2 linked regions of the Homo sapiens genome follow. The protein of the gene in region 1 interacts with the protein of each later gene in a biochemical or structural test. Each region holds a gene or a part of one and is shown on either strand. Other genes may lie near its edges.

Evidence for each region.
Region 2: of the proteins of RELB (region 1) and MALT1, one has a biochemical effect on the other in vitro, tested with the Homo sapiens proteins (2 studies listed by BioGRID).

Annotation. Positions count from the first base shown.
Region 1 is NC_000019.10:44,997,583-45,004,701, forward strand, and holds the start of RELB (transcription factor RelB), read left to right. Parts: upstream 1-3,881; 5' UTR 3,882-3,997; coding exon 3,998-4,103; intron 4,104-5,366; coding exon 5,367-5,414; intron 5,415-7,119.
Region 2 is NC_000018.10:58,674,424-58,681,699, reverse strand, and holds part of MALT1 (mucosa-associated lymphoid tissue lymphoma translocation protein 1), read right to left. Parts: intron 4,091-7,276; exon of another isoform or gene 4,054-4,090; intron 1,229-4,053; exon of another isoform or gene 1,124-1,228; intron 531-1,123; coding exon 364-530; intron 1-363. UniProt on the Homo sapiens protein: Protease that enhances BCL10-induced activation: acts via formation of CBM complexes that channel adaptive and innate immune signaling downstream of CARD domain-containing proteins (CARD9, CARD11 and CARD14) to activate NF-kappa-B and MAP kinase p38 pathways which stimulate expression of genes encoding pro-inflammatory cytokines and chemokines.

The sequences.
Region 1 (7,119 bases):
CACCGTGCCTGGCCCTGACATGTCCTTTTAGTCATTCAGCAAACTTTTTTTTTTTTTTTTTTTTTTTGAGACAGTCTCACTCTGTCACCTAGGCTGGAGTGCAGTGGCGTGATCTCAGCTCACTGCAGCCTCCACTTCCTGGGTTCAAGTGATCGTCCTGCCTCAGCCTCCCTAGTAGCTGGGACTACAGGCACATGCCACCACACCCAGTTAGTTTTGTATTTTTAGTAGAGACGGGGTTTCACCACGTTGGCCAGGCTGGTCTTGAACTCCTGACCTCAGGTGATCCGCCTGCCTTGGCCTCCCAAAGTGCTGGGATTACAGGCATGAGCCACTGCACCCAGCCTCAACAAACATTTTTGAGGCCTGGCATTGGCAAGAGGCAGAGAGGAATCAGGAGAGCTTCTGGTCCTATAACAATTGGAGCTGCTATTTGTCATCCTTATCATAAGCCAAGCACTAGTGTAAGTGCTGCATGTGGTTGGCTTCATCCATTACATTTAATATTATTCAGTGTCCTCGTCACCTTACTGGTCCATCACTCTGCCCTCATCTCTACCCCTTTCCTGTCAGTCACTCTGCACCAGCCTTCTTGCTATTCCTTAAGCATGCCATGCATGTTCCTACCACAGGGCCTTTGCACGTGCTAGCCCCTGTGCTTTGAACACTCTCCCCCAGATATCCACATGAATCCCTCACCTCCTTTGACTCCCTGTTCAAATGGCACCTCTCAGACCCTGATCTTCCTAACCCAAACTATCTTCCGAACTCCTTCTCGTTATCCTGCTCTATCCTGTAATACTGCCATCACCATCAGACATAATATTTGCTTATCTGTTTTCCATCTGTCTCCTCACTTGGATTTCCTTGATGGCAAGGGCTTTTTGTCTGCTGTGTGCCTTGCTATGTCCCTAGCTTTTAGAGCAGTGCCTGACACTGTTACGCTGTGTGTAATAACTGTAAATTGAAGAGCCAGGCACAGTGGCTCACGCCTGTAATCCCAGCGCTTTGGGAGGTTCGGGCAGAAGGATCACTTGAGGCTAGGAGGTCAAGATCAGCCTGGGCAACAGCAAAATCCCATGTCTTAAATAAAAGAAAGAAGACCGGGTGTGGTGGCTCACGCCTGTAATCCCAGCACTTTGGGAGGCCAAGGCAGGCGGATCACGAGGTCAGGAGATTGAGACCATCCTGGCTAACACGGTGAAACCCTGTCTCTACTAAAACTACAAAAAATTAGCCAGGCATGGTGGCGGGCGCCTGTAGTCCCAGCTACTCGGGAGGCTGAGGAGCAGAATGGCGTGAACCCGGGAGTAGGAGCTTGCAGTGAGCCGAGATCGCGCCACTGCACTCCAGCCTGGGTGGCAGAGGAAGACTCCATCTCAACAAAAAAAAAAAAAGAAAGAAATAGGGCTGGGCACAGTGGCTCACGACTGTAATCCCAGCACTTTGGGAGGCCAAGACAGGCGGATCACCTGAGGTCAGGAGTTCAAGACCAGCCTGGACAACATGGTGAAACCCCATCTCTACTAAAAAAAAAAAAAAAAAAAGAAAGAAAGAAATGTAGTCCCAGCACTTTGGGAGGCTGAGGTAGGCAGCTCGCTTGAATCCAGGAGTTTGAGACCAGCTTGGGCAACATGGTGAAACCTCATCTCTGCTAAAAACACAAAAATTAGGCCAGGCATGGTGGCGCACACCTGTGGTCCCAGCTCACCAGCTGTGTGGCCTCAGGCAACTGACTTCATCTCTCTGAGCTTCAGTTTCCCGTCTGTAAAGTGGGTCTAATAATAGGACGGTCATGAGTATTAAATAAAATGATGTTAATAGTTAGTTGCCCTTTGGCCAGGTGCACTGGCTCAGCCTAAGCAACAGATCCTCTCTCTACAAAAATAGAAAACAGGCTGGGCGCAGTGGCTCATGCCTGTAGTCCCAGCTACTTGGGAAGCTGAGGCAGGAGAATCGCTTGAACCCGGGAGGCAGAGATTGCAGTGAGCTGAGATCGCACCACTGCACTGCAGCCTGGGTGACAGAGCGAGACTCCATCTCTCAAAAAAAAAAAGAAAGAAAAGAAAAGAAAACATTAGCCGGATGCGGTGGTGTGTGCCTGTAGTCCCAGCTACTCTGGAGGCTGAGGTGAGAGGATCCCCTTAGTCCAGGAGGTTGAGGCTGTGGTGAACCATGTTCCTGCCACTGCACTCCAACCTCGGTGACAGAGTGACACCCTGCCTCAAAAAAAAAAAAAAAGTTCACATTTGTATATAGCACCCACATGTGCCAGGCCCTGTTCTAAGAATTTTGTGTTTTAAATATTTGTGTCTATTAATTTGTGTGACCTTGGAGAAATTAATTTTGCCGGGTTTCAGTTTTCTCATCTGCTATGTGGGGATCAATAACACCATATACTTCACACAATTGTTGTGAACATTCAACTTACAGAGTTATTTCTTTTTCTTTTTGAGACAAGGTCTCACTCTGTCACCCAGGCTGGAGTGCAATAGCGTCATCACAGCTCACTGCAGCCTCAACCTCCCAGGCTCAAGCAATCCTCCTGCCTCGGCCTCCCAAAGTATTGGGGTTACAGGTGTGAGCCACCGTGCCTAGCCAGAACACCCAAATTTTATACAAGCAAAGGAAAGACAACAAACCCTGCATCTGTGGTCTGAGAGCGCCTGGCATCCAACTTAGAACCTAATAGATCACCTAGTCGTTCTCAGGAATATGAGAGGCTTAGGAATGTGATCTAGCCAAATGGCTGCCCCTCTTTCAGCCTGAGTCCCTTCTGCAATAATCCTATCATATGCTTCTGGCGCTGGTGATAGGGATGAGCTCAGGGTTTAGGCACACAGCTCAGGATGTATACGGAGGCTACACTGCTGCCATTCGCAGACTGAATAACTGAGCTTTTGAGCTCAAAGTGGTCTGGGCTATTTATGGGTAACTTTCAGGGGCTGCAGGGAGGAACAAACCAATAAATAAAACATCCATGCATTCATCCAATAAACTTTTTTTTTTTTGAGATGGGAGTCTCGCTCTGTTGCCCAGGCTGGAGTGCAGTGGCACGATCTCAGCTCACTGCAACCTCCGCCTCCCAGGTTCAAGCTATTCTCCTGCCTCAGCCTCCGGAGTAGCTGGCATTACAGGCGCACACCAACACGCCCAGCTAATTTTTGTATTTTTAGTAGAGATGGGATTTCACCATGTCGGTCAGGCTGGTCTCGAAATCCTGACCTCGTGATGTGCCTGCCTCGGCCTCCCAAAGTGCTGAGATTACAGGCATGAACCACCGCGCCCGGCCTCCAATAAACATTTATTGGGCACCTACGGTGTTCCAGGCGCTGGTCTAGGCGTTGGGGTTACAACAACGCACAAAACATAAATTCTGAAGCTGACACGCTAGCTTTAAACGTTCCTTAAATATCTTCATCCTCAATTTACGGTTGAGGAAACTGAGGTGTAGCGAGACCTTGGAGGTTTCCGAAATATTATTATGGATGGCAGGTGTAGAGCCCTGCCAACCTCTCGATCCTGAAGCTCCCCTTCCAGCCTGAGAAACGGCAGGTTCAAGTCCCACTGGGAGACCAAAGCGGGGAGCGGCTCAGTTTGCCGGCTTGCTCAATGGGTAAGGCGTGATGGCTCTAAGCAGGCCTCAGTTGTCTCGTCCAGAGCAATGGGCAGCGACGCCTGCCCAACCCCTCCTGAGCGCCCAGCCTCCCTTTCCCGGCCGGCCCCGCCCCCGCGATCACGTGACGCGTGGGGGTTTTCCCGTTCCCCAGGCGTGACGTCACGGCGGGGTGCAGACCAATGGGCGCGCAGGCCGGCGGCGCCGGGGAATTCCGCCGCCCCGCCCCCGCCCGCCGCCCGCCCGGCCCGGCCCCGCGCCCCGCGCAGCCCCGGGCGCCGCGCGTCCTGCCCGGCCTGCGGCCCCAGCCCTTGCGCCGCTCGTCCGACCCGCGATCGTCCACCAGACCGTGCCTCCCGGCCGCCCGGCCGGCCCGCGTGCATGCTTCGGTCTGGGCCAGCCTCTGGGCCGTCCGTCCCCACTGGCCGGGCCATGCCGAGTCGCCGCGTCGCCAGACCGCCGGCTGCGCCGGAGCTGGGGGCCTTAGGTAAGCGGGGCTGGGGTTCAGGAGAGGGGTCTGGGGCGGGGCTGGAGATGCGGGGATTCTGGCGGTCCCGGAGTAGTCTGGGGGTTCCTATGGGAGTCTAAGGGTTTCGCGGGGGCAGAGTGAGGGTTCCTGAGACACTGTATTAGGGCGTAGGAAGAAGGCAGAGGGTGATGAGGGGGTACGGCCCGAGGTTCGAGCGAGGCGTCCCGCTGTAGAGTGAGAGGGGGCGGGGCCTGACCCTGAGGCAAAGAAGGGGGCGTGGCCTGACTCAGAGAAGGCGGAGCGAAAGCTGCTCTTGGGCGGTATCGGGGCGGGGCCGGGCCCAGAGAGGGAGAAGAGGGGCGGGATCCGACCCGGACTATGAGAAGAGGGCCGGGCCTGACTCAAAAAAGGAAGCAGGGCCCTACGCTGAGGGGTGAGGGGGCGGGGCCTGGCCGTGAGGGCAGGAAGGGGGCGGGGCCTGAGTTGGCCGAAAGAAGGGGAAGGGGCGGGGCCTGACTCTGGCCGAGTGGAGGGGAAGGGCCTGTTACCCAAAAAAGCAGGGCGGGGCCCGACACAGAGAATGAGGAGGGGGTGGGGCTTGCCTCCAGACGGAGAAGCGGAGCCTTGACATTGAAAAAATTAAAAGTGGTCTGACCCTGACAGGAGGATGTTTTTTTTTGTTTGTTTTTTGTTTTTTTCTTTTGAGATGGAGTCTCGCTCTGTCGCCCAGGCTGGAGTGCAGTGGCACGATCTAGGCTCACTGCAACCTCTGCCTCCCGGGCTCAAGCAGTTCTCCTGCCTCAGCCCCCCGAGTAGCTGGAATTACAGGTGCCCGCCACCACACCCGGCTAATTTTTGTAGTTTTACTAGAGACGGGGTTTCACCATGCTGGTCAGACTGGCCTCGAACTTCTGACCTCAGGTGATCCGCACGCCTCGGCCTCTCAAAGTGCTGGGATTACAGGTGTGAGCCCTTGTGCCCAGCGGGATGGGGACTTTTTAAACTGAGATTGAGATGGGGTCCCCTCCAGGCCCAACTTTAAGGGAGAAAAGGAGCGGGCCCTGAGTGTGATGAAGGGTGGGGCGAACCACAGAAACTAAAGGCCAGGACCTGTCCATGATTTAGCTGGTAAGCCTGGCCAGACGCAGGGGGGCAGTCAGGGCGAGGGGCCTGATCCAGAGGGGAAGGGCTAGAAGAGGAAGGGGTGGGGCTTCCTTGGGATATTCTCTGGTCCTCTGGCTGCCCCCCATCACCTCCTGAGACGTTTCTCCTTCTCTGCAGGGTCCCCCGACCTCTCCTCACTCTCGCTCGCCGTTTCCAGGAGCACAGGTGAGCAGCCCTCCACAGTTCCTGCCCACTCGCTCATGCAGGATGAGGTTGGGAGGACTCCACAGAGATGTCTCTGTTTGGGGGTTCACGAGGTCCACCTCAGCTTTCTCCTGACAGGGTGCATCCCTCCCTGCCAGTTGAGATGGGCCCCCTAGGTTTTCTTACCTCTTGGACTGTTAAGAGCGTGACAGGTGGCCGGGCGCGGTGGCTCACGCCTGTAGTCCCAGCACTTTGGGAGGCCGAGGCGGACGGATCACGAGGTCAGGAGATCGAGACCATCCTGGCTAACACGGTGAAACCCCGTCTCTACTGAAAATACAAAAACAAAATTAGCCGGGCGTGGTGGCGGGCTCCTGTAGTCCCAGCTACTCGGGAGGCTGAGGCAGGAGAATGGCGTGAACCTGGGAGGCGGAGCTTGCAGTGAGCCGAGATCGCACCACTGCACTCCAGCCTGGGAGACAGAGCGAGACTCCGACTCAAAAAAAAAAAAAAAAAAAAAAAAAGCGTGACAGGTAAATCTTACCACCTATCCATGCGCAAAGGCTTCTTTAGAGATTCACTGTGGCTTAGTAGAAGGTAATCACTGCCATCCTGGGCTTTGGAGCTGGGGTTTACATACTGCTGTCATCGCCCCTCCCTGTGTGAATGTCTGCAAGTCAGTTCCCCAGTTCAGGCCTCAGTTTTCCTCATCTGTAAGATGGACAGAATAACAGTGCCTCTCTTTCAGGGAAATTGAGAGTATTCAATGAATTGATACAGGTACACTTTCCAAGCAGTATCTGGCACACAGTAAGGGTTCAGTAAGTGTTAACTGTTAGTGGTATAATAATAATAACGATAATAATTATTATTACTAGACAGTCTATAACAGTGGTTCATTTTTGGTGTGTGTGTGGGTTTTTTTTGTCTGTTTTTTGTGTTTTTTTTTTTTTTTTTTTTTTTTTTGAGACAGAGTCTCGCTGTGTCACCCAGGCTGGAGTACATTGATGCGATTTTGACTCACTGCAATCTCCACCTCCCGGGTTCAGCAATTCTCCTGCCTCAGCCTCCTGAGTAGCTGGGATTACAGGCACCCGCCACCACAACCCACTTTGTGTCTTTAGTAGAGATGGGGTTTCACCATGTTGGCCAGGCTGGTCTTGAACTCCTGACCTCAGGTAATCCGCCCGCCTCAGCCTCCCAAAGTGCTGGGATTACAGGTGTGAGCCACCTCGCCTGGCCAGACAGTGGTTCTTTTTTTTTTGAGACGGAGTTTCATTCCTGTTGCCCAGGCTGGAGTACAATGGCGCGATCTCGGCTCACTGCAACCTCCACCTCTCAGGTTCGAGCAATTCTCCTGCCTCAGCCTCCCAAGTAGCTGGGATTACAGTCATGTGCCACCACGCTCAGCTAATTTTTTGTATTTTTAGTAGAGACAGGGTTTCTCCATGTTGGTCAGGCTGGTCTCGAACTCCTGACCTCAAAGGATCCGCCCTCCTCGGCCTCCCAAAGTGCTGGGATTACAGGCGCGAGCCACCGTGCCTGGCCAGACAGTGGTTCTTAAACCATGTGCATCAGAATCATCCATAGCGCTAGTTAAAACATAATGTCGCCTGATGTGGTGGCTCATGCCTGTAATCCCGGCACTTTGGGAGGCCGAGGTAGGCTCATCACCTGAGGTCGGGAGTTCTAGACCAGGCTGACCAACATGGAGAAACACCATCTC
Region 2 (7,276 bases), on another chromosome or scaffold:
GCACTATTCCAATGTATGTCATAGGAATCTTCTCCCTAAATACTTTAAAATGCATCTCCTTTTAAAAAAAGGACATTCTCCTATAGTATCATTATCATATGATAATTACTTAATATATCAAATATGTAGTTACATTCAAATTTTTCCAACTATCTCAAAAATGTCTCATGTAGCTGGTTTCTTCAACCACAATCCAACCAATATTCATGCATTGCATTTGCTTCAACCTGGGAAAGCAAACAAGGCACTACACATTTACATTTTCCAAAAATACTTAACACAGTTCACCTGGTCAAAAGAGATAATTTCTTCTAAGTTTGGCTCCATGAACTCCTGGAGAATAATCCTAAGAACAAAACCTACCTGGGGGGCTGAGAAGCTGAAGAACTTCAGTGTGTTCCATAGCCTGCAGGAAATCACTCAATTCTGTGACTGTGCAACCTTTTTCACCCATTAACTTCAGCAGACACAGGCTGGGGCTTCCTTCAGGCTCCAGTACCTTAAGAGAACACTGCTCCAGGTCTAGGCAACTGAAAGCAACAGAAAGAATTCAAGTCAACAGCTTTCTTCCACATGATACACCTGCTATATATCTGGACCACGGTGGTGCTGTATGGAATAAATCACAAGTGAGTGGGTGGGTGGTGACAAACTATTCACATAATGAATGCGAGTATCCTTTCCTCCTCTTTCATCACGGGGAATTCCTCTTTATTCCCTTCTCCCACTCAGCTCCCATGATTATTTTTTTTTTTTTTTTTTTTTTTTTTGAGACGGAGTCTCGCTCTGTCGCCCAGGCCGGACTGCGGACTGCAGTGGCGCAATCTCGGCTCACTGCAAGCTCCGCTTCCCGGGTTCACGCCATTCTCCTGCCTCAGCCTCCCGAGTAGCTGGGACTACAGGCGCCCGCCACCGCGCCCGGCTAATTTTTTGTATTTTTAGTAGAGACGGGGTTTCACCTTGTTAGCCAGGATGGTCTCGATCTCCTGACCTCATGATCCACCTGCCTCGGCCTCCCCAAGTGTCCCATGATTATTAAATCAGGAGAATGAGAAACCCAGAAACAGGATGTGAGAGAAATTGAGCCTTGATACTGACAAAGGTTTTTTTGCCTTTAATTTAGGAATGGGGAATAGGAAGGCCAGAAAAATTTCCTTACTCCTTCTTCAAAGATGATGAAATACAAAATGACCCCAAATGAAGCGGATAGAACAATCAGTGTTACAAGGTTAGCAATTGAAAAATACTAAAAATATCCTTAATTACTAGTTTAAATAAATTATGGCATGTATATCAAATGAAATACTGTTAATTCATTAAAAAAACTGAGCCTGAGGTAAAGGCATAGGTCTTTAAGACATACTGAGAAATGAAGGAATTAACATAAAAAACTGTGTATAATACACTACTATTTGTATTAACAAGGTAGTATGTCTATGTGTGTATTCATATGAAAAAAGGAAGATACAGAACAGCGTTTGTTATTACCAAGATCATTTGTGTGTGTTCTTATACATGGAGAGTAAACTCTGAAAAGGTATCTAAGAAACTCGTAGCCATAGTTGCCTCACAGAGGGTAAGACAGTAGAGCTCATGGCTGGATGATCTACTTTTCACTATAACCCCTTTTGTACTGTTGATTTTTTTATGTGCATTTATTTTTTGATAATTTTTTTTTAATAGAGATGCTGTCTTGCTATGTTGCCCAGGCTGGTTTCAAACTCCTGGGCTCAAGCAATAATCCTGCCTCTGCCTCCCAAAGAGCTGGAGCCACCACTCCTGGCTCTTTTGATAATTTTTAAAAAGTATATTTAGAAAGAGAACCAGTACTATTGACATTCAAAGTACTTAGGCTGGGCACGGTGGCTCACACCCGTAATCCCAGCACTGTGGGAGGCCAAGGCACGCGGATCTCATCAAGCCAGGAGTTTGAGACCAGCCTGGCCAACATGGTGAAGCCCCATCTCTACTAAAAATACAAAAGTTAGCCGGTGTGTGGTGGTGCACGCCTGTAGTCCCAGCTACTCAGGAGGCACAAGAATCGCTTGAACCCAGGAGGCGGAGATTGCAGTGAGCTGAGATCATGCCACTGCACTCCAGCTTGGGCGACAGATCGAGACTCGGTCTTAAAAAAAAGAAAGAAAAAAACCAAAGTACTTCTAAGTACCTAGAAATATCCTATTGCAGGGACCATGGCCTGTGGGCCAAATGTGTTCAGCTACCTGATTTCTGTAAATAAAGTTTCACTGGAGCACAGCTACACTCATTCATTCACATATTCACAAATGTCTATGGCAGCTCTCCTGATACAACTGCAGAGCTGAATACCTGGCTGCAAAGCCAAAAATATTTACCATTGGGCCCTCTATGGAAATAGTTTGCTAACCCTTCCTTTAAAGAATGTCTTATTGTCCTTTTATTAAAACTATTCTTTTAAAAATACCAGTATTTAACATACATATACAATTTCCTTTTCCATGTTATTGTGTGCAGTAGTGGTATACCAGATTAGAAAGACAGGTTAAGATCAGATCATAGAAGGCCATGAAGAATGGAACAATGATATGAATTGTAATCATTTTATAGAAGGGGAAAGTACAAGTATTAAACATTCAAGGGGAGACAAAAGAATCAAGAAAAAACCGAGCAATCAACGACAGAAAAACTTTCCCAAAGAAACATAACCAACAACAGCCAACCAAAGTGTTTAGATAATCTGCATGATATACTGTAGAATTCACACCTCATCCATCTTTGCAGATCCTGCTCCTTTTCCTGCCAATTTGAATTACAGTCCCATATTAACTCTAGCTTCTCTACAAGGTCCTCCTAGACCACACCAGTCCACCAAACACACTTTATAGACACAGTCTCCTAACTGCACTTATTTTATAGACAACTGTTTTTCTAAGTGGCCAGCAAGGATATATTTTAGATATTCTGGGCCATAGAGTCTCTATCACACATTCTTCTTTGTTGTTTTTTGTTTTACAATTCGTAAAATACAAAAACCAGTCTTAGATCATGGGCTATATGAAACGGGTAGCAGCCTGGATTTGGGCCTTAAGCAGTCATGTGCAGACTTGTTTCATGTTTTATCTCACATAATTTCACCTTAGAACGGTGAGCTTTTCTTCATGAGCATGAAGAAAAGCTGCCTTATCCAACTAGATTATAGTAAACTCCTTGAAAACAGAAACCCCATCATATTAAACATATATGTGTGTGTATACACACACACACGCAGACATAAAATCCCTCAATACCTAAAATTCTGTCTTGTCCATATTAATTATGCATTAATGAATGATTACTGAATGAATTTCAATCATAATTGTCAAGGCTGAAAGCCTGAACAGATGCAAGAGGTGAAACATAATAGTGCCAGGGTGTGACAGAATCAAGGTTAGCAAACTATTTTATTGCTTGAAATATTAATCCTCATTCATTTTGAGTAGTCTTATGAAGATGCTGTCATAGCATTTATACTGTTACCCAAGATTTAAAATTCAGTGATAATGTTGATTATTTCATATGGAAAAAATGTATACGATCAAATTAATTTCATTAGTAATATTATCTACCTCATAGGGTTGTTAGAATTAAATAGCTAATCCATGTAAGAAGTGCTTAACACAGTGCTTGGCAAGTAACAGACATTCAATAAAGGTTAGCTCTTATTATGCAATAAGAATATGGGGATATTAAAAGAATATTAAAGCTAACTTCTTAACTATGCTTATTTCTGAAACAATTTTAGCTTTTCCTTAAACATTTTTTTGAGTAACTATTATTTTGGTAACCTGAAAATGTCCTCTAAGGCCTCCTGTGATCACTATATTTACTAGGTATTCTTTTCTAAGCATCCTAGTTCAATTTTATTATATTCAATATGCCATTCTTGTTAAATGTGAATCATCATATCACAAGTCAACCAGTCTCAAATTCTGGACTGTAGACCAGTGGCAGCACAATCTGCAGTCCAAGGTAAAATGATAAAAATAAGGACAATAAAGCTGTCTTTTATTCTAAAATTGTCTTTTCCATTTTTAGGTGTTAAAGTGTTCTTTCTTTTAAGAAACAATGGTGACTATGATGACAGAAAACATAAAAAGGTGAAGCTGCCTGTTAGTGCTCTTATTTTGTGAAATTTTATTTTACTAGTTTCTGAAATACCCAAGTGAAAGAACCTGTATTAGAAACAATACAAGGATTACTAATTTTGTAAATAATTAGAATGAGATTTGTAAAAATAGGGATGCTGTATGCTAAATATAATTTTTATGATTCAGAAGTTTACCAGGATCTGATAAATGAAATTAAGAAGCCATCTCATCAAATGCAACCAAGTGATGCTTTAATTAATGTCTATATTGATATAGAGAAAATTAAAAACACTTGGCTTTCCTTCCCCCCCAAAAGAACAAAGATCAAATTGAAGTACAGATGATTTCTCTTCCATTACAAGAGGCACAGGAGAAAAAGAAGACTCTGTATCTCTTTTTGTTTTTACTGATTTTCCGTATGGGCACTGGCTTTCAGCTAAGATGATGCTTATACATACCTAACTTTTCTTTCTTTCCTTTTTAAGTTACATTCCTGTAAGAGTGTGCTTTGAAGTAGTTTCTGAAAGTCCTAATTTAGAATTTTTGATTTAATTTAAAAACTGCTTTATGACTGAAACAAATGTACTTTACTTTTTAAAAATATCTCTATTTTTATCTTTAAAAAAATATATAATCAAATAGAATGTATTATACACCCTTTAGGGGACAAACCATAATGCTGTTTTTAGGTTCTTCTGCTTCTCCTCTTGGTACATTTACTATTTGGAATCTTTATTCATTAATTTGATCTATTTCTCCATCACCTAAAATAGGCCACTGTTTTTTCTAGGTGTTGAGGATACAGCAGCAAACAAAACAAAATTCTGTATCTTCCTGGATCTTTCATTCTAGAGAAGTACAGACATAAATTTAAATAAACACAGAGATATCTTTTTGTGTATGTATCCAACTAACCAATGGTCTTAAGTGTTGTGGAGGTAACGCAAGTAGACAGGTAACACTGAGCAGATGTAGAGGGTAATTTTAAATATTATGATCAGAGAAGAGCTCAGTGAGGTGAACAAGTCATGTGGTTACCTGTGGAGACCATCTCAGCCTGAGTAGGCAGCAAGTACAAAGACTACTGTGTCCAAAGGAAGGCAAGAAAGCACATGTGACCAGAGTAGAGAGGGATGGAGACAAGAAGATATCAGGTTGAAGAGTGAACTGGTAGCTAATGGTGTTTTTACTCTGAGATGGAAAAACAATAGGAGAGTTGGCATTTTTTTTTAATGGGGTCTATCTATGTTGCTCAGGCTGGTTTTGAAGTCCTAGGCATAAGTAATCCTCCCACCCTGGCCTCCCAAAGTGCTGGGATTACAGGTGTGAGGCTACCACGCCTGGCCACAATAGGAGAGTTTTGAGCAGAGGAGGAATAAGACCTGATGTGATGTTTTAAAAGAATAATTCTTACTGCTATATTGGTAACAGACTGGGGTGGGAGCAAAGCAAAACAGGGAGAAGTTAAGTGGCTACTGGAATAATCTAGTTGAGAGACAACGTGGCTTGGCCCAGCGTGCCAGCAGTGGACATTGGATTCTACATATATATAGTGAAGGTACAGCAGGAAGGATGGGCTGACAAAAACGATTTGTGTGTAAAAGTGGAGTCAGGAATGAATTCGAAGTTTTTGGACTGAACAACCAGAGGGTGCAGAAACTGAAAGAAAGAGGTTTATAAGGGAAGACGTGTTAAATTTTGGACATGTTATATTTAAGACGTGTCTTAGTCATTCAAGAGAAGATGGCAAACAAGTGTTTACATACGTGAATCTAGGAGTTCAAAGCAGAGAAATGGGCTGGAAATAGAAATTAGGAGTAATCAACCCAAATAAATGTAAAGTCATGGGACTGAAGGATAAGACCAAGAGGGCGAGAAGGAAACCTTTTTTAGTTTATTTGTTTTAGAGACAAGGTCTTCTCTGTCGACCATGCTGGAGGTTGACAATACCTAAATCAATAAAATTCTGTCTTGTCCATATTAATTATTCATAAATGAATGATTACTGAATGAATTTCAATAATAATTGTTGAGGCTCACTGCAGCCTCGAACTCCTGGGCTCAAGCAATCCCACCTCAGCCTGCAGAGTAGCTGGGACTACAGGCCTGTGCCACTATGCCTGGCTAATTTTTTGTTTTTTTGTAGAAACAGGGTCTCAGTATGTTTCCCAGGCTGGGAGGAAACCTTCTGTTAGAGCCTTTTACACGTTCTCATTCCTATAATAAACTGCATGAAAGCAGGATTTCTGCAGCTAAAAGTGCACCTTCTACTCAGCAGGTATGCAATGACTGTTTTTCCATGGTCCAGGTTCCACAGCCCCATTTCTAAGCTCCCTACTTAACAGAATTTTAGGCAGCATTTAGAACCTCCTGGAAGGTCTGCCATCCTTAGGGCTCAGATGTTCCATGCCACCAAAGAATTTACATAGCTTGGGCAAGACCCTCAGAGTCTGTGTCTATCTACACTAACAGCAAAGGGTGTCCAGGTCAGTCTTGAATGGAATCAGGGCCGGGTCTGACTATAGCACATTCCCAAATGTACATGGTTGTGGGGAACTAAGCTATCAACAAGGATTTACTCTGAGTCATCAGCAATGAAAACATTTACAATTATTTCTAATCTCTTGTAGACAGTTTGAACGGGCTCTTTTCTTGTGGTTTACTTATTTGTATTATTAAATTTTCACCCAGTTTGAGGAAAGATGTAAAGTGTCAGAAAAAAAAGTGAAGAGAAGAAAAAGAAACAGAATGGGCAACATTTCGAGATTCTAGGGCTGCAGATCCAGTGACTGAAGAAAGCACTTCACAGCCTCGTGGGACTTGTCACCCACACGGACTAGACACTCACACTATAATTCCTGTCTTTGGCACCAGAGAAAAAATACCTTTAGGACCTTCTAGTATCACAGATCTTCTCCCAACAGCATGAAATCACTTTACAATAACTTTTTTGTCTTAAATAGAGTAAGCATCCCCAGCTGACCTTGCTTCACTGTCCAGCCCCCAAGCTCCCAGTGCTGTTTTTTGAAAAAAAGTCCGTTTAATTCTTCTGATCTCCATAGGGATGAGCTTAACGTTCCCAAATTCTCCAACCCTTCTCACCCCAGCCAACCTCCTCAAAACTAATCTTTACCATCTTGAAAGACAGGTGAAACTCATCTGCCTCTCAT